2 separate regions of the Homo sapiens genome follow, and region 1 is linked to region 2. A link means that fine-mapping ties the variant in region 2 to the plasma level of a protein whose gene starts in the linked region. Region 2 holds a variant in brackets. A gene starts in the other region. All regions are shown on their forward strands. Region 1 holds the start of LMNB2 (lamin B2). Region 2 overlaps SIRPA (signal regulatory protein alpha).

What was found. A credible set is the group of variants that fine-mapping cannot tell apart. PIP is the posterior inclusion probability: the model's chance that the variant is causal. The UK Biobank Pharma Proteomics Project read protein levels with antibody pairs (Olink). The fine-mapping took linkage between variants from a reference panel, not from the people measured, so its PIPs are less certain.
Region 1: it holds the start of LMNB2, and the variant in region 2 is the best candidate, but not a certain one, in a credible set for the plasma level of the LMNB2 protein (UK Biobank, PIP 0.89).

What each region holds. Positions count from the first base shown.
Region 1 is chr19:2,447,755-2,462,981 of GRCh38, forward strand. It overlaps LMNB2 (lamin B2), which reads right to left and starts at 9,205. Exons shown (of 12, transcript NM_032737.4): 1 at 8,916-9,205. The coding sequence starts at 9,179. It overlaps LINC01775 (long intergenic non-protein coding RNA 1775), which reads right to left and starts at 14,431. Exons shown (of 2, transcript NR_134931.1): 1 at 14,227-14,431; 2 at 11,183-11,346. RefSeq lists enhancers at 5,228-5,842, 5,843-6,457, 6,514-7,224, 7,225-7,933 and silencers at 8,194-8,373, 8,604-8,693, 8,754-9,003, 9,124-9,303, 14,618-14,687.
Region 2 is chr20:1,933,037-1,948,263 of GRCh38, forward strand. SIRPA (signal regulatory protein alpha) reads left to right here. Exons shown (of 8, transcript NM_001040023.2): 7 at 1,679-1,718; 8 at 4,284-7,556. The coding sequence ends at 4,532. It overlaps PDYN-AS1 (PDYN antisense RNA 1), which reads left to right and starts at 14,174. Exons shown (of 4, transcript NR_134520.1): 1 at 14,174-14,615. RefSeq lists enhancers at 4,032-4,586, 4,587-5,139, 6,653-7,154, 7,155-7,654, 12,493-13,039 and 1 more and a silencer at 14,167-14,461. The variant T/C (reference allele first, on the strand shown) is at 6,923.

The DNA.
Region 1 (15,227 bases), not on the chromosome of region 2:
CTGTGCAGAGGGCTGGGGGCCTGCCAGGACGCACCCCTTGGCAGTGACCGGGCCTCTTCTGAGGTGGGACCCTCAGCCTCAAACCAACGCATGCTGGGCCATCTGGACAAGTCAGAGTCTCAGGCTGCCCCAGCACCGCAGCTCCAAGTCCCGTCAGCCTACAGTGGGGCGGGATAAGGGTTCCCAACCTGATTTTATGTATGGGAAAACTGAGGCACGGGTCAGTAAAAAGCCGCCTCCTGACCACCGCTGGGTCCTAGACATATCAGGTCTGCGGGGACCAATTGTAGGACGGGGACCCACAGAGGCAGCAGTGCAAAGCGAGCTCCTCCCGCGGCACCCCGGCCACCCCCAAGCCCTCCCTCCCATGCAGGCGATCATCTGGGCCGTGCCCTCCACATCTGTGTCCTGGGAACAGACTTCTAGAAAAACCCAAATCAGGAAAAAGCGGCCAGCTCCACGCTGCAAACAGCTGGGCACCAGGTGCAGGCATGGTGGTGTCTGCCTCTCCCTCAAAGCTCCCAAATACCCCTAACCTCAAGGGAGGGGCTGACGGGACACCCTCAGGATGGGGGTCACACACGAGCTCTCCTGTCCCCACAGAGAGAGAGCTGACTGCGGCTCACGAGGCAGAGGGGCCAGGATGAACAAAACAGCAGAGTTTCCAACAAAGACAAGATCAGCGCCGGGACACACAGGAGCCCGTTCAAGGTGAGAAAAAACAGCAACTCTGCAATGGCAGCCACACGCACAGAGGCATGCTGAGCACCCCCAGACCATGTGCACGGCGGTCCTGTAAGACTCTAATGCAAACCTGGCATGGGGGCTCACCCCTGTCATCCCAGCACTTTGGGAGGCTGAGGTGGGCGGATTACGAGGTTAGGAGATCAAGACCATCCTTGTTAACACGGTGAAACCCTGTCTCTACTAAAAATACAAAAAAATTAGCCGGGCATGGTGGCGTGCACCTGTAATACCAGCTACTCAGGAGGCTGAGGCAGGAAAATTGCTTGAACCCAGGAGGCAGGGGTTGCTGTGAGCCAAGATTGGGCCATTGCACTCCAGCCTGGCGACAGCCAGACTCCACTTCAAAAAATAAAAAGAAAAAGAATCTAATACCATATTCTTACTGCACCTTTCTTGTGTTTATTTACTTATTTTGAGACAGAGCCACACCCAGCCTGGAGAGCAATGCCGCAATCACAGCTCACTGCAGCCTCAAACTCTGGGCTCAAGCAATCCTCCTGTCTCAGCTGCCCCAATAGCTGGGACTATAGGCACACATACTACTATGCCTGCCTAATTAGTTTCTAACTTTTTTTTTAAGAGATGGGGTCTTGCTATGTTGCCCAGGCTGGTCTCAAACTCCTGGACTCAAGCAATCTGCCTGCCCCAGCCTCCCAAAGTACTGGGATTATAGGCGGGAGCCACCGCACCCAGCCCTTTCTCGTGTTTAAATGCTCACATACTTACCATTGTGTAACCGGTGCCCACAGCATTCCACAGAGGAGCGGGCGGTGTGGGTCTGTGGCCTAGGAGGCCACGCCCAAGCCTGGGTGTGTGGTGGCTTCCACCATCCGGGAGTGTGGGAGTGCACTCTACCATGCCCACACAAGGGGCACGTCTCCTAACGACACGCTTTCCACAAGGTATCCCTGTCACTAAACGACACCTGACTTGAATTAATAGTTTGTTCATTGTAGATTTTTTGAATTAATTGATTTTTAAAAGATAATCCATTAGGGCCCGGTGCGCTGGTGCATGCCTGAAATCCCAGCACTTTGGGAGGCTGAGGCGGGCGAATTACTTGAGGTCAGCAGTTCGAGACCAGCCTGGCCAACATGGTGAAACCCTGTCTCTATTAAAACACAAATTAGCTGGGTGTGGTGGTAGGCGCCTGTAATCCCAGCTACTCGGGAGGCTGAGACAGGAGAATCACTTGAACCCGGGAGGCAGAGGTTGCAGTGAGCTGAGATCACGCCACTACGCTGCAGCCTGGGTGGTACAGAGAGACCCTGTCTCAAAAAAAATATACATATGTCTGGGCGCCGTGGCTCACGCCTGTCATCCCAGCACTTCGGGAGGCCAAGGCAGTTGGATCACCTGAGGTCAGGAGTTCGAGACCAGCCTGACCAACATGGAGAAACCCTGTCTCTACTAAAAATACAGAATTAGCCGGGCATGGTGGTGTATGCCTGTAATCCCAGCTACCCAGGAGGCTGAGGCAGGAGAATCGCTTGAACCAGGGAGGCGGAGGTTGTGGTGAGCCAAGATCACGCCACTGCACTCCAGCCTGGGCAACAGAGTGAAACTCCGTCTCAAAAAAAAGAAAATAAAATACATATACATATACATATATATATACACATATATATATATATTCCATTAAAACATTACTCATCCCATCGCCCCAGCGTGACGATGAGCAAAACAACACACAAACCCCCATTGAGGAACATCCTACTGCACACCTGCCCAGCCCGCTCAGGACCAACCAGAACCTCTAACCAGGAACGTGGGGGAAACTATCAGCCTGGAGGAGCCTGGGAGACAGTGACGTAGTCACTAAATGTCACGTGAGATAGTGGATGGGGTCTTGGGGCAGGAAAGGACATCGGGGAAACTGAGGAAGTCTGAATACATGATGGATGTTGCTGGGAGCAGTGGCTCACAGCTGCAGTCCTACAACTTTGGGAGGCTGAGGCAGGAGGATCAGCCTGCCTCAGCCTTCCAAAGTGCTGGGATTACAGGCATGAGCCACCGCACCTGGCATAAGATGATGGGAGGCTGAGGCGGGCAGATCACCTGAGGTCAGGAATTTAAGACCAGTCTGGTCAACATGGTGAAACCCCATCTCTACTAAAAACACAAAAATTGCACCATTGCATTCCAGCCTGGGCGAGCACAGGGCAAGACTCTGTTGCCCAGGCTGGAGTGCAGTGGCATGATCTGAGCTCACAGCAACCTCTGCTTCCCGGGTTCAAGCGATTCTCCTGCCTCCCAAGTAACTGGGACTATAGCCGTGCACCACCACGCCCAGCTAATTTTTGTATTTTTAGTAGAGACGGGGCTTCACCATGTTGGCCAGGCTGGTTTCAATCTCCTGACCTCGTGATCCGCCCACCTCGGCCTCCCAAAGTGCTGGGATTATAGGTGTGAGCCACTGCGCCCAGACGGTTTTTACATTTTTAAATGGCTAGGGGTAGCCAGGAGAGGTGGCTCATGCCTATAATCCCAGCACTTTGGGAGGCAGAGGCTGGCAGATCCCCTGAGGTCAGGAGTTCGAGACCAGCCTGACCAGCATGGTGAAACCCCATCTCTGCTAAAAATACAAAAATTAGCTGGGCGTGGCAGTGCAAACCTGTGATCCCAGCTACTGGGGAGGCTGAGGCACAAGAATCGCTTCATCGCCTGAATCCGGGAGGCAGAGGTTGAAGTGAGCGGAGATTGTGCCACTGCATTCCAGCCTGGAAAACGAGACTGTCTCAAAAACAAAAACGATAAAGGCCAGGGGGGAAGATGAAGAGACTTTGTGACACAGGCAGATTCTATGCACTTCACAGTTCCATGTGTATAAATAAAGTTTTATTGACACATAGCAGCACCCACTTATTCACCTATGGGCTAAGGCAGCTTTCATCCTATGGCAGAGCTGAGTGGTTCAGATGCAGACAGTCTGGCCTTTTTTAGAAAAAGTCTGCTGACCATGCCTGGTCTGCCGTGCTGTGATGATGAGGAAAGTTCTAGAGGCTGGGGCACCTCACAAAGACCCTTTGAGCCTGCGGAACGGGTGTGCCGGGGCAGGACGGCCTCCTTGTGCTTGTGAGGCGCTGCAAAGGGCTGGGGACAGGCTGGGCCTTTTCTTTCATCTTTCACGGCATCTAGCAAGTGCTAGGCTTGAGGGAAGTCAACAAGTGTGTCCACACATGTGGGCCTGGCAGGGCTCAGATAGCCTGAGATGGCCTTTGCCTGGGACCCCTCGGACACACAGAGCAGCATAACTCGGCTGGAGGAGGCCACGGTGGGACAAAATGGCCCGGCTAAGAACTACAGCCCTGTGCAGAAAATGCAAACACCGGCTTGGGGTCACTTCCAAAGTGGACTCCATCCTCCACGCTCGCCTGGGCCGCCTCCGAGACCCCCTCCAGCAGCCCTGAGCAGCCAGGGGACACCGGGGCAGGGGAAGACAGAAGATGCCGAAGCCAGGTCTCCTCCCTCGGGAACGTAAGGCCTGGCAGGGAAGTACCTGGAGTACCTGCCTCTCCCGCGCCTGGACACGGGCCACAGCGCGGCCTCCCTGCACCTGCCCCCGCCCCCAGCACTCAGTGATCCTCCTTCAACAAATACCCATCTGGCCAGCCCCCACCCCACCCTTTCCCAAGCCCTCCAACGATGCTTGTATATGGCGATTCATCCACACCGCCAAAAGACACCCCCTAGTGTCACATGGGAATGTGGAACCCATGCTTGGCCTGGTTTTGTACGAGTGTGCAAGGGTGAACTCCTGCGGGCAGGAAAGAAGTGAGCAAGTTAGCCGGGCATGGTGGTGGGCGCCTGTAATCCCAGCTACTCAGAAGGCTGAGGCACGAGAAGCCCTTGAACCCAGGAGGTAGAGGTTGCAGTGAGCCAAGATCACGCCACTGCACACCAGCCTGGGCGACAGAGAGAGACTCTGTCTAGAAAAAAAAAAAGGCCAGGCATACTGGCTCACACCTGCAATCCCAGCATTTTGGAAAGCTGAGGCGGGCAGATCACAAGGTCAAGAGATAGAGACCATCCTGGCCAACATGGTGAAATCCCATCTCTACTAAAAATACAAAAATTAGCCGGGTGTGGTGGTACACGCCTGTAATCCCAGCTACTTAGGAGGGTGAGGCAGGAGAATTGCTTGAACCTGGGAGGCAGAGGTTGCAGTCAGCCGAGATCACACCACTGCACTCCAGCCTGGGCGACAGAGTGAGACTCTATCTCAAAAAAGAAGTGAGAAAGGCGTGTGTGAGGACCTCGGGGGCCGCCACACACCAGGATGCTGTGAGTCGTGTTATGAGCCTGAAAAAATCTGAACTGAGTCCCTCACGCCTCCCAGCAGGCTCCTCGGCCTGGCCATTCTCATGGGGGCCGTGTTACCCTCATGGAGGCTGCGTCATCCTCGTGGGGGATGGGTCATCCTCATGGGGGCTGCGTCATCCTCATGGGGGCTGGGTCATCCTAATGGGGGATGGGTCATCCTAATGGGGGCTGGGTCATCCTAATGGGGGCTGGGTCATCCTCGTGGGGGCTGGGTCATCCTCGTGGGGGCTGGGTCATCCTCATGGGGCTGGGTCATCCTCGTGAGGGCTGCGTCATCCTCGTGGGGGCCAGGTGATTCTCTTCTCGGGGCGCTGAGCAGTACCCAGCCTCCACCCACGCTGTGCCGATGCCGTCTCCCTCCCAATGTGACAACCAAGGGCATGCCCAGCCTTGGCCAAGAGTCCCCTGGGGGCAGAAGCTGGCCAGGTGAGAGAGGCCCTGCTGTCCAGGTGACCTGCATGCTCTTAGGCCTGACACCCCAGGTCCCTCCTCGTTCAGAGCTCCCTCCCCTGCCCCCATCCTGCCAGCCTGAGCCTGAGGCTGCTCTCTGAACCCCACGTGGCCCACCTGTGTCTAGAAGGCCCCCAGCTATTCCAGGTCACTCCCTCCATGTGGGCCCACATGACGTCCCCCCACCAGCGGCCCCCACCCCAGCAGGCTTCCAACTCTGCTCCCCACTAGCCGGGTTCCTGGCCCACTAGTCGCAGGCGGAACTCCCAGCTGTCCCCTGCCACATGCCCTGCAGACACGGCTGGGTGACAGGGCTCACGGAGGGGCCAGTGTGTCACCTGCTAAATGGCTGCCTTCACTGGAGTCAGACCCGCATTTCACCCAGCCTGAGTGAACTGAGTTGTAAAGGATGCTGCTGCGGCCCCGAGAGGTGGCTGGGCCAGGCTCCCTCTAGGGCACAGGGCCGGTCCAATGGGGCGTCCAGTGGGGCTGGGGCTGGTACCTCCCCAGCACTCACCAGGCCCTGCACCCTCAAAGCTCCCTGCAGCTGTTCGTCCCATTGGCAGGTGGGATAACAGAGGCCCAAAGACAAGAAACCAGCTCTAACCCTGCACGCCACGGGTCCAGCAGGCGGCCTCTAAGTTGGGACAACTCCGCACTGGACAGATGGCAAGATGGAGGCTCCAAGAGACACAGGGGCCTGCCCAAAGCCACACTAATTGAAAAGCAGGGGACTGGCCAGGCACGGCGGCTCACACCTGTAATCCCAGTACTTTGGGAGGCCGAGGCAGGCAGATCACCTGAGGCCAGGAGTTTGAGACCAGCCTGACCAACAAGGCCAAACTCTGTCTCTACTAAAAATACAAAAATGAGCCGGGCATGGTGGTGAACACCTGTAATCCCAGCTACTCGGGAGACGGGGGCAGGAGAATCACTTGAACCCGGGAGGCAGAGGGTGCGGGGAGCTAAGATCGCGCCACTGCACTCCAGCCTGGACGACGGAGCGAGACTCTATCTCAAAAAAAAAAAAAAAAAAAAAGAAAGAAAAGCAGGGGATCCCACCAAGCACTGATCTTCCTTCTACCTCCCTGAAGGCACCAGCTACATTCTTTCAGGTTCCCTGTCCCCAGGGCACTGTGAAAACAACCCACAGGGAGCTACTGAACAAAAGTTAACCTGCTGTGGCCCCACACACAAGTAAGAGGTGGGTATTATAATTACACCCATTCCAAAGGCGAGGGCACTGAGACCCAGAGAGGGTAAGCGACTAGCCCAAGGTCACACAGAGGGTAAGTGGCTCCCAGAAATGACCCGACCCCCTCAACAAGCAGCTCTTCTCCCAGAAGCCCACCACGTCCTCTGATCTCCAGATGGGCGAGTGGGGACTGGGCGCTGCAAATCCCGACTTCGGCACCCAGCTCTCCCAACAGGACACTGGGGCCTAGGGACCCCAGGACCCCAACCCATGGCAGGAATCAAGTGGGTGCTCCTGCCTGCCCCCCGTTCTGGAGTCCTGTCCTTGGATTGGGCATGGCCAGTGGGAGGGACAAAGAGCCTCCCCAGGGTTAGGTTGGGGGGCAGGACAGATTGCACCCAGACCCCAAGACACCCCGACCTCATGTCCCCTTGGTGGGCAGACTTTCCCGCCTCTTCTCCTTCAGTCTGCACTGAAGCCTCGGGGCCCATTCAGAACCTCAACACTTTCCACCGGACCCAAGATCCCAACTCTCACCCTTCCTTCATATTCTCTTGGGGGCAGAACCTGCCAGACCACCGCTGACACCAGGGCACAAATAAGGGACTCCCAAATTTCCCGTGGGACCCCAAGGTATCAGAACCTCTCCCTCGGCCCCCTACCCACCCTGGGCCTGGTGAGAGATGAGGGGCCTAATTCCCACCCCAGTCACCAATCTCTTCTGGATTCATCAGGGAACTCGCTAAAGCTCCAGGGAGAACTGAGACCACGTGACTCACCCCAGAGACTCCAGGGAGACCCCCCACACACCCCATCTTGGGCCTCCTCAGAGGGCCTGGGCCCCCCAGTCTCCTTGGAGCCCAGAGACCACCCCCATTCCACCCCAGATACCCCAATACCCAGCTTCATCCCCAGAGACTCCCACTCACACCCCCTCAGTTGGGGGGGGTCCGCCAAGTCTCCTTGGAATCCTCTGAGGGACGAGGCATATGGGGGGCTGCAGCCCAATACTCAGGGAGCCCCCAAATCCCCAGGACCTCTCTTTGGTGGGGAGCCCTAGTCTGTAACCCCCATGGCCCCAAAATGCACCTCTCACGGAAGGGTCCCCAGAGCTAGCTGGAGGCCCCTCTGCAGCCCTCACTCAGGACACGGAAGATCTCCTGGGACCCCCTCCATAGGTGGGGCATTCCTGGTCTGCACTTTTCACTCAGTGCCCTAGAAACCCCCTGGAGGTCCCCAAGAGAATGGGCCACTCCGGTCTGCACCCCTCCCAAGGGGTCCCCCAAGATCTCGGAAACTGCGGTGGGCAGGGCCTGCCCAGGTGGCACCCCTCACTCAGGGTCTCCCCCTGGAGATCCCCGAGGCCAGGCTGACCCCACCCCTGCTCAGGGTCCCCCGTGATCGCGTACTCCGCGGTGGGCTGGGCCTGGCCGAGCTGCACCCCTCACTCAGGGACCCCTTGAAACCCCCTGGAGACCCCCAAGCCGGGACCCTTCCCGGTCTGCACCCCTGCCCAGGGTCCCCGCGATCGCGCACCCCGCGGTGGCCAGGACCTGCACCCTTCATCCAGGAGCCCCCCGCAAACCCCCTGGAGACCCCAAGCCGGGAGTCGTTCAGAGTCCCCCGCGATCGCGCGCCCCGTGGTGGGCGGGGCCTGGCCGAGTAGCACCTTTCACTCAGGGACTCTCCGAAACGCGGCGGAGATCCCCGAGGCCGGACTGTCCCCGTCTGCATCCCAGCTCAGGGTTCCCCGCGACTGGGAGCCCCGCAGTGGGCTGGGCCTAGCCGAGCAGCACCCCTCACTCAGAAGCCCCCAAACCTCCTGGAGACCCCCGAGCCGGAGCCTGTCCCCGTCTGCACCCCCGCCCAGGGTCCCCGCGATCACGCACCCCGCGGTGGGCGGGGCCTGGCCGAACTGCACCGCTCACTCAGGGGCCCCTCGAAACCCCCTGGAGACCCTCGAGACCCGGGCCCGTCCCTGTCTGCACCCAGGGTCCCAGCGATTGCCCACCCCGCGGTGGGAGGGACCTGGCCGAGCTGCACCCCTCACTCAGGGGCCCCCCGAAACCCCGCGGAAACCCCCGAAGCCGGGGCCCGTCCCCGTCTGCACCCCCGCCCAGGGTCCCCGCGATCGCGCGCCCCGCGGTGGGCGGGGCCTGCCGGCTGCACCCCCGCCCGGCCCCTAAGCCCCGGCGCCCACCTCGCGCGTGGTCACCTCCTCCTTCTCTGAGATCTTGAGCAGGAGCCGGTCGTTCTCCAGCTCCAGCGCGCGGACGCGGTCGATGTAGTGCGCCAGGCGGTCGTTGAGCTCGCGCAGCTCCTCCTTCTCCTGCAGCCGCGACAGGCGCGTGGGCGACAGCGGCGTGGCGGGCCCGCCCGCGCGGCCGGGCAGCGGCGTGGCCATGGTGGCGGCGGCTCGCGGCCTGCGCTGCTCCCGACGGCGGCCCGGGCTCGGCGGGCTCATTCAATCCGCGCCGCCGGCTGCAAGATGGCGCCGCGCCGCGCCGCGCCCGCCGCCCGCCGCGGCGGGGCAGCCTGGGACTGGTAGTCCGACCGCCGGGCGCGCGCGGGGCACGCCGGAAGTTGAAGTCTCCGTCCAGCTCTCGCTTCGCAGAGGCGCTGACTCCAGAGACAGACTTCCTGGCTGCAAACTCCCAGCTCCGCCACGAGGAAACAGCGTTGGGTTGCTTTCTAGTACCTGTTTCCCCACTTAGAGAACCTCAAAACGTGTTCAAAGAACCAGACACAAAAGGCCATATAGGGCCGGGCGTGGTGGCTCACGCCTGTAATCCCAGCACTTTGGGAGGCCAAGGCCGGTGGATCACTTGAGAAAAGAATTTCGAGATCAGCCTGGACCACATAGGGAGACCCCCCCACACCATCTCTACTACGGAGGCGCGCGCCGGTAATCCCAGCTACTTGGGAGGCTGAGGCAGGAGAATCTCTTGAACTTGGGACGTGGAGGTTGCAGTAAGCCAAGATCGCGGCACTGCACTCCAGCCTGGGCAACAATGAGAAACTTTGTCTCAAAAAAAAAAAAAAAAAAAAAAAAAAGCCATATAGTGTACAATGCCACTGATATAAAATGTCCAGAAGAGGCTGTCAAGGAGTATGAATTTCAACAAATTGAGTTTAATGATCTCATTGGCTCTTATTAGCAATTCATGAATTGGATAGCATTCAATCTATTAAATAGGCACTCCAATGAGCTGAGCAGAGAGGATGGGCATTCTGCATTACAGGCAGAAAAGGCTGAAGAAAGGAGAAATAAGAATTAAAATAAAAGCCAGGCCAGGTACAGTGGTTTGCTCACGCCTGTAATGCCAGCACTTTGGGAGGCGGAGGTGGGAGGATAGCCTGAGCCCAGGAGTTTGAGACTGGCCTGGGCAACATAGCAAGACCCCATTTCTAAAAATAAAAATAAAAAAATTAGCCAGGTGCAGTGGCTCACACCTGTATTCCCAGCACTTTAGGAGGCCAAGCCGGGCAGATCATGAGGTCAGGAGTTCGAGACCAGCCTGACCAATATGGTGAAATCCCGTCTCTACTAAAAATACAAAAATTAGCCAGGCATGGTGGCACATGCCTGTAGTCTCAGCTACTCGGGAAGCTGAGGCAGGAGAATTGCTTTAACCCGGGAGGCGGAGGTTGCAGGGAGCCAAGATTGAACCACTGCACTCCAGCCTAGGCAACAGAGTAAGACTCCACCTCAAAAAAAAAAAAAAAAAAAAATTAGCTGGGCGCCTATAGTCCTAGGTATTTGGGAGGCTAAGGTGGCAGGATTGTTTGAGCAAGAGAGGTCAAGGTTGCAGTGAGCCCTGATCACATCACTGCATTCCAGCCTGGGTGACAGAGTGAGAGTTTGTCTCAAAAAAAGTAAAAATAAAAATACGAAATAAAAACCAATTGGTTGTTTCAAAGTTACTTTTTTCATAGGGTCTGTTTTAACCCCCTCTATTTTGAGGGTACTTCCCTATCAGGTTAACCGGTCCCCTTTGGCTTGGTGGCTGTGAATGTTTTTTTTTGAAAACCTGCACCCTTTAAAGTTCAGTTTGAGGCCAGGTACGGGTGGCTCTCACCTGTAATCTCAGCACTTTGGGAGGCTGAGATGGGGAGATCGCTTAAGCCTAGGAGTTTGAGAACATCCTGGGCAACATAGTGAGACTCTGTCTCCAAAAAAAAAAATTTTTTTTTTTTGGAGACAGAGTCTTGCTCTTGTCACCCAGGCTGGAGTGCAATGGCATGATCTCGGCTCACTGCAACCTCCACCTCCTGGGTTCAAGCAATTCTCTGCCTCCCGAGTAGCTGGGATTACAGGCACCCGCCACCATGCCCAGCTAATGTTTGTATTTTTAGTAGAGACCTGGTTTCACCATCTTGGCCAGGCTGGTCCTGAACTCCTGACCTCGTGATCCACCCACCTCGACCTCCCAAAGTGCTGCAGTTACAGGCGTGAGCCACGGCACCCAGCCAAAAAAATTTTTAATAATTAGCCACATGTGCTGGCACACACCTGTAGTCCCAGCTCCTCGGGAGGCTGAGGCAGGAGAATGGCTTGCATCCAGGAGTTCAAGTCTGCAGTCAGCCATGATTGCGCCACTGCACTCCAGTGTGGGCAACGGAGCGAGACCCTATTTCAAAAAATAAAAAAAATAAAAGATCAGTTTGACTACGTGGTACCTGGCACTAGTGACTCCATTCCAATTTTATCTGGTCTGCTGGGGACTAGAGACCCCATTGTCTAAAACAATGGCCTGCCATACATTTTATTTAACAAGGCCAGGCGCGGTGGCTCATGCCTGTAATCTCAGCACTTTGGGAGGCCGAGGCGGGCAGACCACCTGAGGCCAGGAGTTCGAGACCAGCCTGGCCAAAATGGCAAAAACCTGTCTCTCCAAAAAGTACAAAAATTAGCCAGGCGTGGTGGTGTACGCCTGTAATCCCAGCTACTTGGGAGGCTGAGGCACGAGAATCGCTTGAACCCAGGAGGCAAAGGTTGCAGTGAGCTGAGATCACACCACTGCACTCCAGCCTGGGCGACAGAGCAAGACTCCGTCTCCAAAAAAAACCCCCCAAAATTGTAATTTAACAAGACAACCTATACAGCAGTGTTTCTCCAACTCTGCACTAGATATTTGGGGCCAGATCACTCTCTGTTGCAGGGGGTTGGAGTCAGGAGGTGCTGTCCATTACAGGGTATTGAGCAGCATCCTCGGTCTCCACCCACTCCATGCCACGAGCATCCCAGCCTCATACTTATTTTTTATTTTATTTTTATTTTTAGTTGAGGCGGGTCTCGCTCTGTGGCCCAGGCTGCAGTGCAGTGGCGTGATCTCGGCTCATTGCAACCTCCGCCTCCCGGGTTCCAGCGATTCTCCTGCCTCACTCTCCCGAGTAGCTGGGATTACAGGCACTTGCCACCATGCCCGGCTAAGTTTCTGTATTTTTAGTAGAGACAGGGTTTTGCCATGTTGGCCAGGCTGGTCTTGAACTCCTGACCTCAAATGATCTGCCCGCCTTGGCCTCCCACGTTGCTGGGATTACAGGCGTCAGCCACCGCGTCCGACCCCGGCCCCCTAGTTATGAAAACCAAGTATGTCTCCAGAGATTGCCACATGTCACCAGAGGGGCAAAATTGCCCCAATTGGAGAATAACTTCCTCCTGACCTAGAACTGGCCCGGTCTTCCTTCTGCCTGGGGAACTCCTCCTTTTTACACATCTCACCTTGGGGGTTTGGCTCAGCCTCTGCCAGAGACCCCAGTAAATCACACACTGAGAATCTAATGCCCTTTCCAGCCTACTGAGGACACCAGGGGAAAGAGCCCACCTGCCTCCAACAGCCAACATTCACTCGCTATTATTCCCCTCTTACCAGATAGACCCCCAGCCTTAGAACCCAGGCAGGAAGCCTGGCATGGTGGCTCACACCTGCAATCCCAGCCACTCTGGGAGGCTGAGACAAGAAAATGGCTTGAGCCCAGGAGTTTGAGACCAGCCTGGGCAACATAGCAAGACCCAACTCTACAATACTCTACAGTTTTTTTTTTTTTTTTTTTTTTGGAGACAGAGTCTTTCTGTCCCCCAGGCTGGAGTGCAGTGGCCCAATCTTGGCTCACTGCAACCTCCTCCTCCTGGGTTCAAGAGATTCTCCTGCCTCAGCCTCCTGAGTAGCTGGGATGACAGGCATGCGCCACCATGCCTGGCTAATTTTTGTATTTTTGTAGAGTTTCCTCATGTTGGCCAGGCTGGTCTTGAACTCTGGACCTCAAGTGATCTGCTCACCTCGGTTTCGCAAAGTGCTGGGATTACAGGTGTGAGCCACTGCACCCGGCCCCTACAAAAAAATTTTTTTAATTAGTTGGTCGTGGTGGCGTGCATCTGTATCCCCAGCTACTTGGGAGGCCGAGTCAAGGAGATGGCTTAAGCCCAGGAGGTGGAGGCTGCAGTGAGCTATGATTGCACCATTTCACTCCAGCCTGGATGACAGCGCAAGACTCTCTCTCTCTTTTTTTTTTTTTTTGGCAGGGGGGACAGGGTCTCACCCTGTCACCCAGATTGCAGTGCAGTGGCTTGATCTCGGCTTACTACAACCTCCACCTCCCAGGGTCAAGTGATTCTCCTGCCTCAGCCTCCCGAGTAGCTGGGATTACAGGCGTGCGCCACTACGGCCCAGCTAATTTTTGCTAGAGACGGGGTTTCACCATGTTGGCCAGGCTGGTCTTGAACTCCTGACCTCAAATGATCCGCCCACCTCGGCCCTGCAAAGTGCTGGGATTACAGGCGTGAGACACCGTGCCCAGCTGCAAGACTCTTTCTCAAAACAAACAACAAATAAACCAGCCAGGCAAGAGGGAGCTAAGCAGTGACTGCGTATTTAGAGGACTGATACTGTTTTCCTTCCTCATAAAGGGAGGAATATAAAATATAAAGACAGATGGTAAAGCACAATGGGAAATAAATAATACTACAGGAGGCGGGGCCAGAGGGGAGAAGGATGATTGAGGTTTGGGTGGGAAATGGGGTCACTTTTTTTTTTTTTTGAGACAGAGTCTTGCTCTGTAGCCCAGGCTGAAGTGCACGATCTCAGCTCTCTGCAACCTCCGCCTCCTGGGTTCTTGTGATTCTCCTGCCTGAGCCTCCTGAGTAGCTGGGACTACAGGCATGTGCCACAACGCCCGGCTAATTTTTGTGTTTTTAGTAGAGACGGGGTTTCACCATGTTGGACCAGGCTGGTCTCGAACTCCTGATCTCAGGTGATCTGCCAGCCTCGGCCTCCCAAAGTGCTGGGATTACTGGTATGAGCCACCACGCCCGGCCGGGTCACTTTTCCTATTCTCCACCCTCAGACTGATCTGAAACCGCCCCCCCGCTCCGCATCAACTTCTCACTGACCACCGGCCTTGGCCACTGGCTGACCAGATCCCCCAACTAGCCCCTTACTGGAGGCCCTGCGGGGTCCCGCCCCCAACCCCATCGCGCTGCCCCTCTGGGCACTTCCATCCCCACATACCCCCATACCCAGCCTTTGCCCGTGCTGTTCCATCCGCCAGGAGCGCCGTTTCCTGCCTGACTGCGCGGCCCTGGGCCTCAGTCTTGCGCTCTGCAAACCGGGGTCTCGAATCTACCCCAGCCCTCCTGTCTCGGCGCTGGGGAGGGGCTTCGGGTGCCCAGAGCCATCCCCGCGGGACCCCCAGGGACTGGACTCCAAGTCCCAGAAAGCCCCGCGCTTCCCGTGGGTGGGGCCCGGGGCTTTCCCCCTCCCAGCGCGCAGTTTGGGAGGCGCTGGGCAATTTTCAAATTTTGGCGCCGAACGGGAGGGGCGGTGACAGCTGAGACCGTGGTCCCCCCGGGGGCACCCACGCCCAGGCTGCTGCTGGCAGCTGCGCCCAGAGCCCGAGGTCTGGGGCATCCCGCAAAGCTGCCCCGTCCATTCCGAGGGGCCTCCCAAGGCACCACACGCGCCAGGGGGCTCCGGGCCCATTTCCATTATGGAAAACTGAGGCACAGGAAGGTTAGGGACCGGTCGGGGAATCCGCACCAGGGGCGTAGCGGAGGCGGGATTCGAACGCGGGACCCTCTTTCCCCCGGGAGCTAGAAATTAGTGACCAATTGGCTGGGCGCGGTGGCTCACGCCTGTAATCCCAACTTTGGGAGTCCGAGGCGGGCGGATCACCTGAGGTCAGGAGTGCGAGACCAGAATGACCACCATGGCGAAACCCCGTCTCCACTTAAAAAAAAAAAAAAAAAAATTAGCCGGGCGTGGTGGCAGGCGCCTGTGACCCCAGCTACTCGGAAGGCTGAGGCAGGAGAATCGCTTGAACCCAGGAGGCGGAGGTTGCAGTGAGCCAAGATCGCGCCATTGCACTCCAGCCCGGGCTACAAAAGCGAACCTTCGTCTGAAAAAAAAAAAAAGAAAAGAAAAGAAAAGAAAGTTAGTGACCAACTGCTGTCTGCTTTTGGGGAGAGGGTACGGGGCCGCGGGAGAGAAATCCCGGACCCTGGGACTATGCA
Region 2 (15,227 bases):
AAAATAGCATCTGAAGGAAGAAAAGGATTAAAGCAGATTAAGAGGCAGCAGCATGGAGCATGCAAAGGCCCTGGGGCAGCCTGACTGGCATTCATTCCAAGTCACTGTTTTTGAGCACATGTGGTGAGGAAGCATGGCAGGCAGGCAGGCAGACAGCAATAGAAACCAGATATGCAGATAGACAGGAGATCTGAGATTGTCATGGAGGGGCAGCCCAGCCAGCGCAGCACTGTCAGCAGAGCCATCACAAGGTGACACCATAGTTGAGTCTTGAAGGAAACAGGAAAGTTAGCCAAGAGGAAAAATGATCAAAGGGGTCCTTCGAGGCTGCTATTGAAGCATGAAGTACATAACATCAAATGCCACCCCCCCCCCGAAATATCTGGTGGGCAGATGAGTGGGTACATGAGGGCAGGGCAGTGAATTAGCCTGGAGGCAGCACGTCAGACCACGTGGGACTCTGAGCAGGGCGATGAGTTGGACTTGAACCAGCCAGCCAGTGGGAAGCTCCAGGAGGGCTGGAGGCCAGTAGTGTGGGGACAGATCTGCGTGATCTTCCCCAGCAGACGTGCCCCTGCTCCTGGAGGGTTCTTTCTGTGGCCACGTGGGGCTTGTCATGTCTCAGAACTGCTTTCAGAGCCAAGCACTCATGCCAAATCCATTAATAACCCTGCTGCCAAGCCCCACTGCTCATTTCTGACATTATCCATGCTAACATCCCCGGGGTTGCCGGCTTGAGAATTTACACAACTTCTGCCAAGCCAGTGGCTCTGGTTTGCTCATCACCTTGACCGTGACCCTCCAGTGAGTCAAGTCATGACCTCCAATTACAGAAGCAAGTGCACGAACAACTTCTTTGATTAACTTGGACATCTTGGTCTTTTTCTTTTCTTTCTTTAATGATGATACATAGATGTTTATAATACAGAACATTTGGAGAATATGGGAAACTAAAAAGGAGAAAAAAAATACCATGCAAAGACCACTGCAGTTTGCATTTTGCTATGTTTCCTTCCAGTGTTATCCACACATTTTTCATAATTGAGATAATCCTACAGAGAATTTTCCTTTTTCACTTATCATTTTAATGTAAGCAATTTTAACTTAAAAAAAAAACCTCCTCATAAACCTTTTAAATCTTTATCTGTGGATTTATCCTAATTTCCCTAACCAGTCCCAATTGGCAGAGCCCTAAGACATAAACCTCCTCCCCCATCCAGCCCTTGACAAATGCCTTTGTGTTGAAAGCTTTTTCTATATTTTGAATTCCCCCAAAAAAAAGTGCAATTATGAGTCAAAGGATGAGGACATCTTCCAAGCTCTTGATTTTGCCAGCTGCTTCCCAAAAGGATTGTACTGGTTTGCCTCTCCCACCAGTGACGTATGAAAGCTCCAGTTCATTTCACCATAGCTTCCCCAGCACCAAGTATTATAATTTTTAAAGATCCTTGCCAATAGAGTAGGTTAAAAAAATGATAGTGCATTGCTTAGAATTCCTTTTTAGTGAGATTGACCCCTTTGTCCAAACATTTGATATGCAGTTGTATTTCTGTTATGAGTCCTTCGTTCATGTCCTCAACCCATATAGAAAATGGAGCCTAAATGTTATTCTTATCAGTTTGCATGAGCACTTGAGATAGTGAGGGTATTTTTATCTGTGTGTCTCTTTCCTTTTTAGGTTGCATGAGCCCGAGAAGAATGCCAGAGAAATAACACAGGTACAGTCCTTGGTGAGATGCCCTTCCTGGGAAACTCCGTGGCGTGGTTGCTTCACATCAACCGGAATTGCAGATCTGGTTCTAAATTAAGACTCCTTGTGGGGTGGAGGGTGGAGGATCTTACACTCCTAGCTTTCCCCATGTCCTGTGCATATTCCTTCTCTCTACTGCAGCCAAGAGTGGCTGTTGCAGCCTCATGACTCAGTGCGACCCATTGCACAACTCCCCAGGGGCACCATTCACAATCCGTCCTATGAAAATGGTGCCCTGGAGTCAGGCTGCAGCTCCCTTAGTGTGGATCGTGCCTTCCCATCTCTCTACATTTGCCCAGGCCCATCCCTCTACCAGGAGCGCCACTCCCAGCTCACTGCCCGCTCCTCACAGCCAGGCTTTTCTATGCTGGAACTGCAAAGCCCAGCCTGCCAGGGCCTCTCCCACCTTTGCTGATGGAAAGACCCCATGTCATTAATTACCTCACACAAGGGCACACTCACTCAAGCTGGAGGTTTCTGGTCAGCATTGCTGAGATGATTTTGCAGCAACACGGTTTCTGAGAAACCTAGCCCTGCTTATCACCGGCTGATGCTGTCAGACCTTGAAGGCAGAGGGCTGCTCAGCATCTTGTAACAAGACAGGCCCTGCTCTGAACCCGGAACGAGAGCGCGCCAGCTGTCCTTGACATTTCCAAGGCAGTTGTCATCTTTTTAGATGTAATCTGTTGAAGGAGTCGGGCTGGTGAAAGGCGCAGCATTTGTAGACCAAAATGCCTTGGCCCTGCCCTTGTGACCCATGGGGTCCCCCCGCAGCCCCGGACATGAGCTCGAGTTGTAATTAAGAAAAAACAATTTCCAGTCATGAGCGAGGGAGATCTTCTCCCCCATCATTTTACTTCTGGACTTCCTCCTGGAATCTTCTGGGGGAAAAAAATGATGGTGAGAAGAATGGGTCATGGAAACCTCTACGAAATTCACAGCAGAGACTTACTGGGCACCCACTGTGTGCCACGCACTGGACAGTGAGCCAGACAGTCACAGCCCAGCTGGCAGAGTGCCTGCGATTCCAGTGCCAGGTGCCAGCCCTGGCCAGGGAGGGAGTTGCACGCTGTCAACACGGATTTCCCAGACAGAAGCAAATGAGAGCACGCAGGGCTCAGGACAGAGGAGCTGTGTGCTAAGAGCACAGTCGTAGAGTCCAACACACTTTGGTTCTTTGCCAGCCGGACAACTTTGTCCACTTTATTGAACCTCCCTTGGTCTCAGTGTCTTCAGCCGTAAAGTGGAATAGATAATCCTTCCCAAGCAGGGTTGTGGTAAGAGTGGATGGGGTGATCTATGTGATTGTGTGCTGCTTGTAAGCCCTGAGAACTGAAATCAGCCATTACCGTGCACCAACTAGGAGGTGTGCCGGTTGGTGGTAGCTTTATTCTGTTCTATCACGCAGGGGCCAGTCACAGAGGGAGCAAAGTTTATCATTCATGATGGGCGCTTTTGAGGCGGCAGTGGCAGGTTGATAGGATTAGCACATGGGAGGTATCCAAGTTTGCTAAGTGGTTAATGATTGCGAACATTTATTGAAGACAGATGCTCAATAGGTACCAGGCTCTGTTCTAAACGCTTTACCTGGATAATCTCATTCCATCCTCACAGCAACCCTGGCAGTAGACACTATTATCATCCCCTCTTTACAGATGGAGAAACTGAGGCCCAGAGAGGTTAAGTGAATTGCTCAAAATCCCTGAGCTAGAACCAGGATTCAAACCCAGGCTTTCTGACTCCAGAACGTTTCCCGCTTCACTAACTGGCGATCTCGTTCTTATACTGCCCCTGTTCTCTGTCTCCCTGTCCCCAGCTTTGCCCTGAGTGAAGGTGAAATTATTGCCATCCACTCATATATTCATTCAATATGGATCAGACTTCTTATGTGCCAGCCTTGGTTTCTGAATCATAACAAATGCCCAGTGAATATTTGTGGAATAAACGCATACATTAATGAATGTCCCCACACGTACCACCATCAGCAGCACCTCCTCAGGCCCCCAAACAGACATGGTCCTGGGTAGCGGGCCCTGTGATGGAAAACAAACATGGGCTGAGGAAGCACAAAGAAGGAACATGGACCCTGCCAGGAGAGGGGAGAGCCAGGGAGGGTCTTAGTATGAGCCATGCTTCATCTGAAATTTACATGGTGGATTGGGATTTGTTACAAGGAGAAGCAGGACAGACACCCTCGAGGGATGAACATGAGAAATGGGTGAAGACTGCAGGTGGTTCAGGCTAGGAGGAGGCAGGAACGGGAGGAGGTGACACTGAGGCGGGGCTGTGAGGAGACTGCACTGTGCGGGTCAGAAAGACCCTTCAGGCAGGGTGAGGAGGAGGGCAGATGGGAAGGGGCAAGGCTGGAGGCAAGTAACGTTGGCAAGAGATGAGGGGAACATGACTTATGGCTGAGCCAGTGTGGGCCGAGAGGACACAGAAGCATCCAGACTTGGTATTCAGTTTGAGTGAGTGGGCCAGGGGCTATAGAATGACCTTCTCATGACTTTCTCTTTGGGTATCTTAAATCCAGGACACAAATGATATCACATATGCAGACCTGAACCTGCCCAAGGGGAAGAAGCCTGCTCCCCAGGCTGCGGAGCCCAACAACCACACGGAGTATGCCAGCATTCAGACCAGCCCGCAGCCCGCGTCGGAGGACACCCTCACCTATGCTGACCTGGACATGGTCCACCTCAACCGGACCCCCAAGCAGCCGGCCCCCAAGCCTGAGCCGTCCTTCTCAGAGTACGCCAGCGTCCAGGTCCCGAGGAAGTGAATGGGACCGTGGTTTGCTCTAGCACCCATCTCTACGCGCTTTCTTGTCCCACAGGGAGCCGCCGTGATGAGCACAGCCAACCCAGTTCCCGGAGGGCTGGGGCGGTGCAGGCTCTGGGACCCAGGGGCCAGGGTGGCTCTTCTCTCCCCACCCCTCCTTGGCTCTCCAGCACTTCCTGGGCAGCCACGGCCCCCTCCCCCCACATTGCCACATACCTGGAGGCTGACGTTGCCAAACCAGCCAGGGAACCAACCTGGGAAGTGGCCAGAACTGCCTGGGGTCCAAGAACTCTTGTGCCTCCGTCCATCACCATGTGGGTTTTGAAGACCCTCGACTGCCTCCCCGATGCTCCGAAGCCTGATCTTCCAGGGTGGGGAGGAGAAAATCCCACCTCCCCTGACCTCCACCACCTCCACCACCACCACCACCACCACCACCACCACTACCACCACCACCCAACTGGGGCTAGAGTGGGGAAGATTTCCCCTTTAGATCAAACTGCCCCTTCCATGGAAAAGCTGGAAAAAAACTCTGGAACCCATATCCAGGCTTGGTGAGGTTGCTGCCAACAGTCCTGGCCTCCCCCATCCCTAGGCTAAAGAGCCATGAGTCCTGGAGGAGGAGAGGACCCCTCCCAAAGGACTGGAGACAAAACCCTCTGCTTCCTTGGGTCCCTCCAAGACTCCCTGGGGCCCAACTGTGTTGCTCCACCCGGACCCATCTCTCCCTTCTAGACCTGAGCTTGCCCCTCCAGCTAGCACTAAGCAACATCTCGCTGTGGACGCCTGTAAATTACTGAGAAATGTGAAACGTGCAATCTTGAAACTGAGGTGTTAGAAAACTTGATCTGTGGTGTTTTGTTTTGTTTTTTTTCTTAAAACAACAGCAACGTGATCTTGGCTGTCTGTCATGTGTTGAAGTCCATGGTTGGGTCTTGTGAAGTCTGAGGTTTAACAGTTTGTTGTCCTGGAGGGATTTTCTTACAGCGAAGACTTGAGTTCCTCCAAGTCCCAGAACCCCAAGAATGGGCAAGAAGGATCAGGTCAGCCACTCCCTGGAGACACAGCCTTCTGGCTGGGACTGACTTGGCCATGTTCTCAGCTGAGCCACGCGGCTGGTAGTGCAGCCTTCTGTGACCCCGCTGTGGTAAGTCCAGCCTGCCCAGGGCTGCTGAGGGCTGCCTCTTGACAGTGCAGTCTTATCGAGACCCAATGCCTCAGTCTGCTCATCCGTAAAGTGGGGATAGTGAAGATGACACCCCTCCCCACCACCTCTCATAAGCACTTTAGGAACACACAGAGGGTAGGGATAGTGGCCCTGGCCGTCTATCCTACCCCTTTAGTGACCGCCCCCATCCCGGCTTTCTGAGCTGATCCTTGAAGAAGAAATCTTCCATTTCTGCTCTCAAACCCTACTGGGATCAAACTGGAATAAATTGAAGACAGCCAGGGGGATGGTGCAGCTGTGAAGCTCGGGCTGATTCCCCCTCTGTCCCAGAAGGTTGGCCAGAGGGTGTGACCCAGTTACCCTTTAACCCCCACCCTTCCAGTCGGGTGTGAGGGCCTGACCGGGCCCAGGGCAAGCAGATGTCGCAAGCCCTATTTATTCAGTCTTCACTATAACTCTTAGAGTTGAGACGCTAATGTTCATGACTCCTGGCCTTGGGATGCCCAAGGGATTTCTGGCTCAGGCTGTAAAAGTAGCTGAGCCATCCTGCCCATTCCTGGAGGTCCTACAGGTGAAACTGCAGGAGCTCAGCATAGACCCAGCTCTCTGGGGGATGGTCACCTGGTGATTTCAATGATGGCATCCAGGAATTAGCTGAGCCAACAGACCATGTGGACAGCTTTGGCCAGAGCTCCCGTGTGGCATCTGGGAGCCACAGTGACCCAGCCACCTGGCTCAGGCTAGTTCCAAATTCCAAAAGATTGGCTTGTAAACCTTCGTCTCCCTCTCTTTTACCCAGAGACAGCACATACGTGTGCACACGCATGCACACACACATTCAGTATTTTAAAAGAATGTTTTCTTGGTGCCATTTTCATTTTATTTTATTTTTTAATTCTTGGAGGGGGAAATAAGGGAATAAGGCCAAGGAAGATGTATAGCTTTAGCTTTAGCCTGGCAACCTGGAGAATCCACATACCTTGTGTATTGAACCCCAGGAAAAGGAAGAGGTCGAACCAACCCTGCGGAAGGAGCATGGTTTCAGGAGTTTATTTTAAGACTGCTGGGAAGGAAACAGGCCCCATTTTGTATATAGTTGCAACTTAAACTTTTTGGCTTGCAAAATATTTTTGTAATAAAGATTTCTGGGTAATAATGAGTCCTTCCGGTGTTCAGTATTCTTGTCTTTGTGAGTGCGTCCCGGGGCCGCCTCGGGGCCTGCC[T/C]GCCCTCCTGCCAAAGCCTGGAAGAGGATTGAATGGACCCCAGGGTTTGGAAACAACCTACAGCATTTGAGCCCCTCACGTAGGTTTTAGAGACGTACAATTTTTGTTTGCCCTGGCTCAGAAGGAGCCGGTGTAAGGTTGAGATAAAATTCCATATAGACAACTGAGTTTGGATCTCGGCTCTGCTGCTTTGTAGCTGTGGGAGTTCAAACAGCACCTCTTTGAGACTTGGGCCCCGCGTCGGCACAATGGGGCAGGAATAGTCCCTGCCAGGGTGACTGTGTGGATTCAAGGAGGTTGGAAGCACTGAGCCCACGCTTGGCACTGGGTAGGCCATCACTGAGGCTTGTGTCTTTCCTTCCTGCCCTGACCCTGCATAGCTGAGTCTCGTGGCCTCTCACCACTGATGGGATCTCGGACACCCGGCTCACCCTCCTCCTGGGGCCTCACTTTCCTTCCCCACCAAATGCAGACATCTAATGCTTGTCCTGTAATATCCTTGCCAGATGACTGATGTCAAGTGCTGGTTTATAGTGGGTGCTCAATAAATGTTAGTTTCCTTTCTATCCCTCCATTAGATCATTAATGATATTAGTGCTAATTATGTAATAAAGTTAAGGCATAAATATGTTAATATTTAGTGGTTACTATGTGTCAACGCTTTACCTTGATGAATTCTTAAACCTTGTGACTCAAGGGCAATTATGTTACTGACTGTAGATGACACAGAGAGAGGGTGCAACTTACACAGGTTCACACAGCTAATGAGTGATGTTACTGAGCCTCCAGTTCCAACTGGATAACTGTAGTGCCTGATGCTTAGCCACTGGGTTAATAATCAATACGTCATGTATGGACCACTGACTGCAAAATTAACCACCATGATAGCTAATAACAGCTATGCCAAGTGTGCTGCCGCGTGCTTCACAGTTAGAACTCATTTCCTTCTCCCAGCTACATGAGGGAGGAACTCTTGTTCTCTGTGCTTTGCAGATAAGGAAACTGAGACACGGAGAAGTCATTTCTCCAATGTCCCATGGCAGAGCAGTTTGAAGCCAGGGAATCTGACTCTTCTCCCCCACACTGTACTTACTGCCTCATTTAATTCTCATGACTATCAGATCGCTGTGGTTGTGCCCATTTTGCAAAGAAGGAAAGATGAGGTTCTGGAAGTGCATGTGACATGACCAATCTCACGCAGAGTCTTTAGTCAAGTTGAGACTTGAACTCAGATCCACAAGCCCACTGGGGATCATCCCTACACCCTTGGCCTGGTCCATGTGATCAGAGACCACCTGAACCAAGGAGCCTTCTGCGGGGCTCAGAGAGGTCACCCTCCTCTCAGGCCAGGACCTTGGCTGTAACAGACAGCTCAGCAGTTTCCTGGCCCGTGGCCTGAGTTCAGCTCTCCGCCTCCCTCCGGGAGCAACCCATGAAATATGTGCACTGCTTGCAGGAATGGGGTGTTCAAGGCATGAATCCAGGCCGAGTGGGTGGGGAAATGCCTTCCATTCTCTGGGAAGGTGGGGGATGATGGACTGCGTGTCCAGACAAGGAGACTTGGTGGGTGTATTTCATGCAGCACCTGGGCCTTGCTTCTCCACGGCCAAATCTCCAGGGCTGGAGGCTGGCAGGCGAAATGAAAGTTGATGGGAGCTAAGTGGCCCTTTTCCAGCCCTCCAGGAAATCAGTCAAGCATTTGGCATTTATCGGACACCTCCTTGGGGTTCCTCCTGGTGCAAAGGAGAATGCTAAGACTCCCTTCCTCCATGAGGACCAGGCCAGAGTCCTCTGCCTTCCACCTGAAGCCCCTGCCCATTTTACGTGATAATCAGGAAAATCTCCACTGGCCCCCAACCCCAAGATTTGAATGCCCAACTGTAAAAGCCCATGTGTCTTCTAGCACATTTCCAACAGCCAAGTTTTGACGAAGGTTTATTTAATTTTGGCATAAACACATACTACATATTAGACACTCTCCTAAACTCTGGACAAGTATTTATTAAAATTAATTCACTTTATTCTCTTAACAAACCTATGAGTTAGGTACTATGATTATCCCCCACTTAATAAAGAAATGGAAACACAGAGAGATTAAGCATTTTGCTCCAAGGTCGCCATCCGGGAAGTGACGCCACTGTGGGTATGGTCTAGTCCAGCACTGAATGGGCATATGATGGGGGCTGGGGCTGATAGTGAGAAAGTGGGGGGCATAGATAATGTTCAGGATACACTGGACACTGTCAGTAGCCAGAAACACCACATCTCACCACCAAAGTGTCAGAACATCAGGGTGATATGGCTGCCTGGCTGCTCACCAGCCAGCCGAGGCACCCTTGAGCCTGCCACTGCTGGGATCCCCGACACCACCCCGCTTCACCACCCTCTTCACTGTGCCTGACCAGGCTCTTGGTTTCTTTTCTGAATACAAGATTATGACATTGAAGATGCTTTTTAAGAAGACGTGCTCCTGATGTTCAAAAACAGGCAAAACCTTGGCAACAGAGATCAGAAGAGTGGCTGCCCTTGGAGGGAGGACCAGGAGAAGCCTGGGGTGGCACATGCTCTACGTCTTCCTGAGTCGTGGTTATCTGGGAGGTTGCATATGTAAAAACCTTTCCAGCTGCACATTTAAGATGGGTGCATTTCCCTGTATATAAGTTATGCCTTGAATTTTTTAAAAGATAGATGCCCAGCCCTGTCCCCCTCAACCTTTGATGCCTGCCCCTCCCCACCCCCGGCCAATCTATTTTTTAAAGTTAGTGTCAACACCTTATCTTCGGTAGCTGAACCCAGCCCAGGGCCTGGCCCCAGTGAGGGGCCCAAGGAGTGTCGCTGAGTTCATTGGAAAGATGAACATCCCCGTGATCAAAACAGCACAGAAAACAGTGAAAGATGCTAAACAGCACAAAGATTAAGGATGGCTACAAGCATAAGCCATTATCTGTTATCACTTCATCTCCTGAGATTCCTTCCATCACTTTTCCTCCTCCTCCACCCATTGGAATCGGATACAACTGCACCCCAGAGTCCTTGCCCTGTGACCTTGGGCAAAGAGATTCACCACTGGGCCTCTGCTTTGTCACCTGTGAAACAGGGATAGTAGCAGCCTTCACCTCCGGGGGTTCTTGCGAGAGTTCGATGAGAAAGTAGATTTAAGACTCTTTGCAGCAGTGTGGTGCAGACAGCAGTCGACATATGCACAGAAACACACACACATTCACACCCACACACTCACATATCAGGCCAGGTTATTAGAGCATCGCTGCAATGGTGGGTCTTCTGACGAATAATTTTATCAAGTCCCTCTCTTTCTCATTAGCCTGAGATAGGTCTCTCTTACCAACCTTTCGGGTATGGGGTGCAACACCCCAGCTTGGTTTTCGGAGTCCTCTGCCTTATACCACCACCTGACCTGTTTAAGAACATTTCCTGCTCCTCCCCAGCCCCTGCTGGACTCCTTGGCCAGGTTGATTTTCCTCTCCCAAGAAATACTATATAGCAACTCCTTTGACTTCCCTAGCCCCACCATGAGTCATTCCTCCAGTGACTTGGTGTCCTCTTGACCAGACATGAGCTCCCAAACCAGAACTTCACGCTCTACCTTTGGGATTCAGCCCCTAGGATAAGGGAGACTAAAGCCTACCATGTGCCACGCTGGACTCTGGACACTCGAATTCTTTACTTCATGGAACCTTCACATTCTTTACAAATGGAATGTCAATTTCACAGGGAAGAAAATTGAGGCTCAGAGAGGTGGAGAGGTAATAAGTTCAAGATCTTTCAACTAGTAATTATTTCTCAAGCTCCTACTGGAACCTGGCCCTGTGCAAAGTTCTGAGGACACAATGTGGACAAAAAATGGACCACACCCATATGAGCTCATATATGAGGGAACCAGAGCCACTGGCAATCCCAGTGCAGGGATGAGCGCTGCTGAGAAGGGCGTGACAAACATGACGTACAAGTGCAGAATTAACACACTAATGAGTGAGCCAGCAGTGGGGCAAGAGCTGGTTCCAAGAGTAAATGGGCACTTAGAGGCTTTGAAAAAGGAAGGTGAGAATAACATTTTCAAGTTAGAGATCAATCCGGTTAATGTCCCACAAGGCAATAAGGCCATATCTTTGGAGATATTTTTTTTCTGCCAGACAGAAGCCATTTGCACCCACCAGACAAAAGTCTACAAATTAGCCCCAATCTGGGCCTTAATCAAATAGGAAAGACAAACTCAGGTATATTCTTCTACAGAACTAACTAATCCTTCAGTGGGGCTTTTAAACCGTGCCCCAGTATGGCAACGAGATGAAGCACTGCCTTCTTTTGCCTTATTTCCAAATTTGAGATACTTTGTCTTATTAAAGGAAAGTATACTGGCTTCATTCAGCCTGCACAGGGCAGAAAAAGACTTCTTGAAGAGGAAATCCCTGAACTGAGATCTAAAAAATAAGTAACAAGAAGCCAGGTAAGTGCAAAAGAGCCAGTGCAAAGGAGTTCCAAGGAGCCAGTGCCTGGCAGAGGCCAGCCGTCCCTGTGTGCACTGGCCCCTACTGAGCTCTGCAGCCCGATTCACACCACTCTCTCCATCACTCCCTGCACTGGCAACACCAGCCTCCTGCCAGTTTCTAAAATGAACCACAGGACCCCGGCATGAGCTACTCCCTCTGCCTGCAACACTCCCTGGATCTTTCCTGCTTGTCCTCCAATCCAGAGGCTGGGCTAAGTTCCCTTGTCAAACACTTCCATAGTAACCATGTCCAGCCCTTCTTTGTAGCCCTCATCTCAATTTGTAATTATACATTGGCACTGTGATTACATGATTACCATCCTCTCCTCTACTGCCCCAGTTGCTGCCTCAGGGCAAGGAGGGTGTTGATTCACTCATCAGTGTAACTCCTATGCTAAGCCCATAGGAGGCACCCAGCAAATATTAGAGGGATGGGAGGATGGACGGAGTGATGAGAAGGAGGATGAGAGGATAGATGGATGGAAGAAGGGAGGCTGAATGGATGGCTGGATTGATGCAGGAGAGCACGGATGGGTGGATGGGTGGGAAGGAAGAAAGGAAGGGGGAGAGGGAGGGAAGAGAGCAAAGGGGGAGAAGGAAGAGCATAAAAGTCGGAGTCTGCTTGGCATTTTAGGAGAACTGAGAGTCCCTGGCTGGCAGGTTTGGAACTAGAAGCAAACCTCAGTACATCTGACTTTTCCCACTGAGTTTCTCTGCCTTTCATCATGATCCTGGGTTCAGGGCAATCACTTTTTTAAAAAAATGACGCATGATCCCCAACAGGCAAGGAGCCAATGACCTTTGTCTGAGCCTTTGGTTCCTCTTCTAGAGAAACTGGGGCTATACTTAGAAAACAGGATAAAAGATTGCAAAAATTTGTCTACTCTCAAATTGCACAACCCTAGCGTGGCTGGTCAATGGCTCAACTTTGGGAGCTGGCGGGGCTCAGCCTCTCAACAGACTTGTCCTCCTGGCTCTGCTTCAATGACAACAGGCCAAGCCCTCATGGTAGAAGGTGCCGTTCCCACCAACCTGGGCCTTCTGCCCCCGCAGGCCCTCTCTGGGCAAGGTCAGCTGGTGCGGCAGCCGGTCGCATGGATCTGGGCCACAGACCTGTCTCCAGAATGAGGCCGGGTGAGAGTTTAATGGCAAGAAGGCTGCAGCCTGACTAAGGCTGTCGGCTTGATTCTGCCATGGCTCCCCCCCATGCCAGTAAATGGACCCTGTGCACATGCAGATTAATGCATTATCGCTAATGTTTTGTGCCAGATGCAAAGGCACTCGGGCAGCCCGGCCGAGAGCTGCCATTACCACAGGACCTTTTGCTGGAAAATTTTTCTTGGGGCAATTAAATCTTCAGCTGTCTCCTCCAAGGGAGTGCCAGCTTGCATTTTAATTATCCTCAAAAGAGGGAAGTAGGGGAAAGGACACAAGGCAAAGAATGAAAAAATAACAACCTGCTTTATAAACACAGTGGTTTCTCCCCCATCAACTCCACAGTGCCCTTGACCTTTAGATTCCTGCCTCCCGATACCCTTGGAAGGACCCCTTTAACGGGAAGAAGGGAGAGGAGGTAGGAGAGAGCGTTTCTTGAGTGTGGAATAAGTGTTAGTGCAATGCATTATGCCTGGTTAATTTTTTTTAAATTTTTTTTGTAGAGACAGGGTTTCCCTATGTGGCCCAGGCTGGTCTCAAACTCCTGGGCTCAAGTGATCTTCCTGCCTCAGCCTGCAAGTAGCTGGAACTACAGGTGCATGCCAACCAGCCCAGCTAATTTTTTAAAAAAATTTTTGTAGAGACTGGGTCTCCCTACGTTGCCCAGGCTGGTCTCAAATTCCTGGGCTCAAGTGATCCTCCTGCTTCAGTCTCCCAAAGTGCTGGGATTAGAGGCGTGAACCACCATTCCCAGACTCATGGAAAGTTCGAGAACCGGCAAAACTCATCAGTCAGGTGCTAGGGCGAGGGAAGCACTTGACTAAAAGGGACAAAGGGAACTTTCGGGGACCTGGAAATGCTTATCTTGATTGAGGTGGTGCTTACATGGGTGTACATATCAGTCAAAACTCATCAAACTGTATACTTTAAAATGAGTGCATTTTATTGTTTGTAAGTTAATACTTTAATAAAGTTGATTTTAAAATAATAATAAAATAATACGAGTTAATATTTATCTAGACCTTACTATGTGCCGTCCTAGTCGCGCTTCGTATGTGTTAAGCCCTTTATCCCTCACTCCAATCTGTGACATAGGCACTCAGTACCCCGTTGCCCAAATGAGGAAATTGAAACACAGAGAAGTTTGGCAACTTTCTAAAGTGACGCAGCTAGTAAGAGGCAGGGCCTGGGTTCAAATGGAGGCAGATTTTAAGCCTATAGCTGAACAGCGAAGTCCAAGATTACCCAACTGGTTATTACTAGAGGCAGGATTAAACCCCGGTGCCTTTCCAACGTGATGAAACCGGTGGAAGAGGAAAACGCATTCATTCACTAGGGAAACATTTACTCATCCTCCGCTGCAGGTCGAACTGTAGACACAGAGAGCAACAGACAAATCCCAGGCCCTCGTCGGGGAAGAAAGGGATCATGAAATAAACAGAAAAATAAATGCGAAATGCGGCCAGCGATGAAAGCTCAGAAGGCGAGCTTACCCCGGACCCAAACGCGCAATACTAACCGGGAGTGTAAGGAGGCCACGCCCTCCTCGCGTATTTGTGCCCAAATGAGCTGCCTCCCCAGCGTGCACCAAATTCCTGAGCCACCTGCTCCGAGCTCGATTTCCCTTTCAAGCTGTGTGTTCTGCGGGGGCAGGGAGAGCTGCAAGGGCTCATCTTTCAGGACGTGCTGCAAAGGCCCTTTGAAGTCATCCGCCCTGCTCTTGGCACCTTGCGCCTGGAGCTGAGCTCTTCCAAAAATGACCCCTGCGCATTCCGTGGTGCGGCCGCCCAGCCCAGGCAGTCGCGGTCCAGAGCAGGGGAAGCTGCAGCGCGGCCGACAGCTGGGAGAGCCGAGGCCCTGAGGGAGGACCCTGCCTCAAGCCAAGCAACCAGGCCCTGCGGCCCTCTCCCCACCCCTGTGCGGCCCTGGCGCAGGGAACCGGGACGGGGCTTTCAGGCCTTGAAGGGCAGACTTACTCCACCAAACATTCCCATCGTCGGCTGATGGAGGGCCTCGAGCTGGGCGCTGTGGGTACGTTATCCTATTTACTTCTCTCGGTAGCCCTGCACCATCGCCTCTGGTTCCCAGGTAAGCACAGAGAAGCAGATGACTTGCCCAAGATCACACAGTACTGCAGGAATAGAATTGGCGTCTGGACCTCTCCCCTAATACCCCACGGCCTCCAGAATCTCACCTCAGCCCCTGTCCATCCCGAAATAAACACTCTACACCATTTAGTGAATGTTCTTTCAGAGGTCAGACCCTATACATTCATTTCCTGGCTCCCCCATTTCCTGACTGCGTGACCTTAAGCAAGTTTCTTAACCTCTCTGTGTCAGCGTCCTCCTCTGTAGAATGGTGCCAAAAACTGTACCTATCCCAGAAGGTTACTGTGAGGACCAAATGAGACAAGACAATAAATGTAAAAGTGGTTAAAACTGTGCCCAGATGATAGTGAGCCCTCAAAAACTAGTCACTCTTCTAATTCCATAGACTTGATTAATTTCTGGTTTTTCATAAGTGGATTTACATGTATACATTTAAGGCACCTTTCCAAGTAAGACATACAGGTCTACCTCATTCTTTCAAGCAGCTTCATAACATTCTTGTATTCATTCATTCATTCATTCATTCATTCACCAA